Linked DNA regions of Homo sapiens: region 2 is linked to region 1. The links come from fine-mapping of genetic effects on gene expression. A gene starts in region 1. The other region holds a variant in brackets. All regions are shown on one strand. Distances are between the middles of the regions.

The links. PIP is the estimated chance that this variant, and not a neighbour inherited with it, causes the effect. A credible set is the group of variants that fine-mapping cannot tell apart.
Region 2: its variant is the best candidate, but not a certain one, in a credible set for the expression of MFN2 in whole blood (INTERVAL, PIP 0.86).

Annotation. Positions count from the first base shown.
Region 1 is chr1:11,978,848-11,981,755 of GRCh38, forward strand. It overlaps MFN2 (mitofusin 2), which reads left to right and starts at 1,597. Exons shown (of 19, transcript NM_014874.4): 1 at 1,597-1,637. RefSeq lists silencers at 1,213-1,472, 1,643-1,882.
Region 2 is chr1:12,000,279-12,003,186 of GRCh38, forward strand. MFN2 (mitofusin 2) reads left to right here. Exons shown (of 19, transcript NM_014874.4): 9 at 1,123-1,276; 10 at 1,491-1,558; 11 at 1,704-1,825. Among named protein-coding and RNA genes, the nearest start is that of MIIP, 18 kb to the right of the region's middle. RefSeq lists an enhancer at 520-1,449. The variant C/T (reference allele first, on the strand shown) is at 1,263.

The DNA.
Region 1 (2,908 bases):
CGACATTTTTAAAAAGAAACAGGTGCAATTAATCTTAGTAATGTATTTAACCCAAATGACCCAAAATATTATCACTTCAACATGTAGTCAGCATATAAATAGTAATGGGCTAATAGCCCTGCACTGTGGCAGGTACCTGTAACCCGGCATTTTGGGAAGCCGAGGCAGGAGAAGATTGCTTGACTCCAGGAGTCCAGGAGTTCAGGACACCAGCCTGGGTAACAAAGTGAAATGCTTCCCCATGTCTACAAAAGATAAATACTAGGCATGGCTGCAGCATCTGTGGTCAGCTACTTGGGAGGCTGAGTGAGGTGGGAGGATTACTTGAGCCCAGGAGTTCGAGGCTGCAGTGAGCCGTGATTGCACCACTGCACTCCAGCTTGAGTGAGAGTGAGACTCTGGCTCAAAGATAGATTTTTTTTTTCTTTTTTGAGACGGAGTCTCTGTTGCCCAGGCTGGAGTGCAGTGGCATGATCTCGGCTCACTGCAACCTCCACCGCCCGTGTTCAAGCGATTCTCCTGCCTCTTCCTCCCGAGTGCACTATCATGCCTGGCTAATTTTTGTATTTTTAGTACAGACGGGGTTTCACCATGTTGGCCAGGCTGGTCTTGAACTCCCGATGCACCCGCCTCGCCCTCCTAAAATGCTGGAATTACAGGCTTGAGCCACCGCGCCCGGTCGATATTTTTTTTTCCTAAAAATTGAGATAGTTTAACAGCCTTTTTTGTCCTAAGTCTTATAGCGCATCTCCGTTTGCACTGGCTCAGGACTCGAGAGCCACACGTGGCTAGTGCCTACTGTTCTGGCGCGCTCAGGCTTGGAGCCTTCTCTGCGGAGGCCAAGTCCTGCAAGGGATCTGTTTGCTGCGGTTTCCTAGTAGTGTCTGCCGCATCACTGGGGCCCGGTGATCTGGGTAACCATGTGAGCTTGGGTAACCTCTCCTCTCCCTCTCCTGGGACTGCTGTGGACGTTAAATACAGCGGTGGATGTTAGAGACGCAGTTCAGTCACTGGCATTGATTCGCCGTTGTTGCTGCTCTTCTTTCCTCAAAGGCGACTGAAGGGCAGCAGGCCCATGCTCGCTTCTGTCTGCCCGATGAGTCACTTCACCCTAGGCCTGGCCCTCTAGAGAACACTCCTCTAAGATTACAGAATGCAAATCTGGATTCCAGAGCTGGCAGAGGCCCCAGGGTCAGGCTCTAGGACAACCGGCGAAAAAGCGGGAACCTCTACTCCACGCCCTTGGTTTTTCGCCCCTTGACAGCTTGAGGCTCCGCCCCGCTTTGCCCCGCCCCCCCAGCTCCGGCCGACGCCCACCGGAACTACAGCCCCCATGATGCAGTGGGAGTCCGAGCCTCTGCGTCGTCCGCTTGGGACGCGCCGGCGGAGGAGTGGCGCGCGGAGGAGTGGCGCGCTGAGACGCCGCTCGAAGCGCCGAGTCGCGGGGCAGCAGAGGCGTAAGGAGTAGGCGGGGCGAGCCGGCTGGGCTCAGGGTCCACCAGCTCACCCGGGTCGAGGGGCAATCTGAGGCGACTGGTGACGCGCTTATCCACTTCCCTCCTCCCGCCTCCCCCTGGGGTGGCGCTCGCTGGTGACGTAGTGAGTGTGATGGCCGCCGCGAGGCCGGGAAGGTGAAGGTGAGAGGGCGAGCAAGCCGGGGTGGCGGGGACTGGCCCGGCCCGGCCCGGCGAGTCCTGAGCAGCTCGGCGTGGGCCGACGGGATTCTGGGGCCACGGGGGTCTGGGATGCAGTCAAGCGGGGTCCCCACTCTCCGGCCTCGCCGCCGGGCCCTCCCCGGCCCTGAGAGGAGGGGGCGGGCCACGGGACCTGGGACTGGTCGGTGGGGTCCCCTGTAGCTTCTCATCGCCCCCGCCTTTCCACCCTTCACGGCCATGTTCTACCCCTGCCCCTTCTCTATTTTTCATCCTGTCTTCATTTTGCCAGCATTTACTCAGCACCTGATAGGTGTCCACGTTCACCGCGGGAGCGCCCTGCCATCCCCACTTTGGGCAGTTACTGCCTTCTCGTTCAGCCCTGTTTACTTATATGACTTCTCACCGGACTGTAAGGCCCTGGAGGGCAGGACTGTTTCTTATCCATTTCTAACGTGGCGCCTGACACACACAGAGAAGGCACACAGAAAATGTTGAATAAATAGCTGTTAAGACGCACGAAGGCAGAACTGCCCGTTACCCCCTCTCGTAATCCTTCATTGCCCTCTTTAAATTCTCAATCATCTCTCTCTCTTCTACCCAGAAAAGGGCTCTGGTTATCTCTTTTCTACCCAGAAAAGGGCTCTGGTTATCCGCCTCTGGTGTCCCAAGGTTTGGGGCTTGGGGGAGGAAGGCAGCTCAATGTAGTTAAAAAAGGAAGGAGGCCGGTCGCAGTGGATCACACCTGTAATCCCAGCACTTTGGGAGGCTGAGGCGGGCGGATCACCTGAGGTCAGGAGTTGGAGACCAGCCTGGCCAACATGGTGAAACCCCGTCTGTGCTAAAACCAAAAACTAGCCGGGCTTGCTGGCACACGCCTGTAATCCCATCTACTCAGGAGGCTGAGGCAGGAGAATCGCTTGAACCCGGGAGGCGGAGGTTGAGCCGAGATCGCGCTGCTGCACTCCAGGAGCTTTGGAGTCAAAGGGAGCTAATATTTCAGATCCCAGCTTAGACAAATCTTCAAGTATTCCAGCCCTCTGTCCCACAGAATAGAGAATTAAGTGAGATACTTTACAGTAGCTGAACACATTGGCTTTCAGTCAGTTCTTCTGTTCCTCAATAGTCAGCTGTTCCACAGTCCTCAAGCCCAGTTTTGTTCCTAGTTTTGCTCTGTCCTCTTCTCCCCTCTCTGGATGTACCTTTCCCAGGGCTCCTGCAGGGACCTCCGTGGTGCCTCAAACCCGCACATGGCG
Region 2 (2,908 bases), 21 kb after region 1:
ACCTCCAGGGTTCAAGCAATTCTGCCTCAGCCTCCCGAGTAGCTGGGATTACAGGCACCCGCCACCACACCTGGCTAATTTTTGTATTTTTAATAGAGATGGGGTTTCACCATGTTGGCCAGGCTGGTCTTGAACTCCTGACCTTAAGTGATCCGCCCGCCTCGGCCTCCCAAAGTGCTGGGATTACGGGCGTGAGCCACTGTGCCCGCTTGTGACTGACACTAGGCAGTGTGACTTTGTTAGCTTCCTTGACCCTTCTGGTAATCCAATTTCCTGGCCAGTGTGATGGTGTGATAAATAGACTTGTTGAGAGGATGAAATCTGTCAAAAACACCTGACACGTGGTAGGTGTCTACAAGAAGCTATTGTCACATTTTATCGGTAGAACCCCAGGATGTCAGAGCCAGGAGGGATGTTCTAGTGATGCCCACTCCTTTTATAAACAATGCCCCAGGAGGACACAGCTTGTCAGAGTATAGGTCCCAGATTTAGGTTTCTTGACCTCAGGGTTCCTTTCCTGCCAGGGCACCAAAATGAGGCACTATATAGGCTTAACAAGAGGCAGTCTAGGGCACGTTTAAGCATTTCTGCTTGTATATGCATAAAATATCTTTGGCACGCTCACTGCCAAGTAACCCCCACACGTTGGTCTGGGAAACTTGGTGGTGAGAGAGCAGAATAGTGGGGGACATTACACTGTGTATGTGTTTGTGCCTTTGGCTGTTGAGCCATGTGAATATATTGCCTATTCTTTTTTTTCCCTCACTCTGTCGCCCAGGCTGGAGTGCAGTGGTGCTATCTTGGCTCACTGCAACCTCCGCCTCCAGGTTCAAGTGATTCTCCTGCCTCAGCCTCCTGAGTAGCTGGGATTACAGGCGCCTGCCACCATGCCTGGCTAATTTTTTTGTATTTTTAGTAGAGACAGGGTTTCACCATGGTGGCCAGGCTGGTCTTGAACTCCCGACCTCAAGTGATCCACCTGCCTTGGCTTCCCAAAGTGCTGGGATTACAGGCGTCAGCCACCATGCCCAGCCTCTTATGACCTATTCTTTTAATAAAAGAGGCAGGTGGGGGCTGTGGGGCCACCTACACTCACTCTGGACACATTTGTTTGGGCTCCAGGTGCGGCGGCAGCACATGGAGCGTTGTACCAGCTTCCTGGTGGATGAGCTGGGCGTGGTGGATCGATCCCAGGCCGGGGACCGCATCTTCTTTGTGTCTGCTAAGGAGGTGCTCAACGCCAGGATTCAGAAAGCCCAGGG[C/T]ATGCCTGAAGGAGGTAATGATGAGAACAGATGTCCTCCTTTTCTCTGATGTTTGAGACATTTTGTCTCGTGCTGAGGAGTCTGTCAGTAGAAAATCCTTCTGAGAAGGGGATGCTGAGAAGAGCAGAGAGGCTCTTGCTCTTTAGCCAGTGGCTTGGTTTCTGGGGATTTCATCGTTTTCCTCTGCTGCCAAGTTGTTTCTGGACTAATGCAGTACAATCCTCCTAGGGGGCGCTCTCGCAGAAGGCTTTCAAGTGAGGATGTTTGAGTTTCAGAATTTTGAGAGGAGATTTGAGGTGAGTCCTCTGATTCTGGTATCTGGCGATTCTGTGCCTCCCCAGCTCCCATTGGCTGTGTCCCTGGCAGTGAAAACCAGAGTCTGGCCCTTGGTTGTAGGCCCCTGGTGGCCCCCACCTCCCTCCGTGCCTCTGTGTGTTCCAGGAGTGCATCTCCCAGTCTGCAGTGAAGACCAAGTTTGAGCAGCACACGGTCCGGGCCAAGCAGATTGCAGAGGCGGTTCGACTCATCATGGACTCCCTGCACATGGCGGCTCGGGAGCAGCAGTAAGAGTCCAAGACTGCAGATAGGTGGAGAGAGCTGCCGAGACAAGGGTGCTCCACCCCTGCCTTGGGCAGTTAGGACACGCCTTGATGGCAGGGCTGAGTCTCTGGGCTCCCATCCAGAGCCCTTTCCCTGGCCACCAGACCATGTTAGAACCACATAGACAGCCTGGTGAGGAGGGCGGCTGGGTGCTTCATCACCCCACCTGGTCTGTGCAGCACGATTCCCTGTGTTGGAGGTCTTGGCCCATGCCCTGCTGAGCTCTGCAGCCATTCTCAGAGCCTGAACACATTTTTCAAAACAACATTCCAGCCAGGAGCAGTGACTCACACCTGTGATCTCAACACTTTGGGAGACCAAGGCAGGAGGACTGCTTGAGGCCAGGAGTCCAGCCCAGATAACATAGTGAGATCCCATCTCTACAAGAATTTTAAAAATCAGCTGGGTGTGGTGGCACACACCTGTAGTTCCAGCTACTTGGGAGGCTGAGGCAGGAGGATCACTGGAGCCCAGGAGTTCAGGGTTCCAGTGAGCTGTGATCGCACCACTGCACTCCAGCCTGGGCAACAGAGTGAGACCCTGTCACTAAAGAATAATATGAAAACACCTTGCTTCTATCACACAGAATTGACTTTCTCAGTTGTTTATGTTAAGTTAAAATTTTAAAAAGTTCAGTTCCCTTTTGATTCTTTTGCACTTGTCCCAGTGTCACTCTGCCCTGAGGCACCATAATCATGAATTTACATTGTTCTATCACCCAAACAGTACTTTTTACATAAATGCTGAGGAATATGTCAGGTTTTTACATGCTTCAGATGTACAGATGTGGCATCACACTGTCTGTCACTGTACCTGGCTTTGCTTTCTCAACATCGTTTTTCCCTCTATCCTTGTTAGTATGTGTAGTTTGTTTATGAATCGGAACTGCTGTAGTATATTCCATTGTGAATATGCCTCATTTTCCTATGGATGGAATTTTAGATTTTTTTTTTGCTATTGGAAACCCTACTGCAGTGGACATTTGTTCATGTGTCCCCTTGTGCACCTTTTTAAGAGTCTTCCTGGGGTGAGTTCCTAGGGGTGTG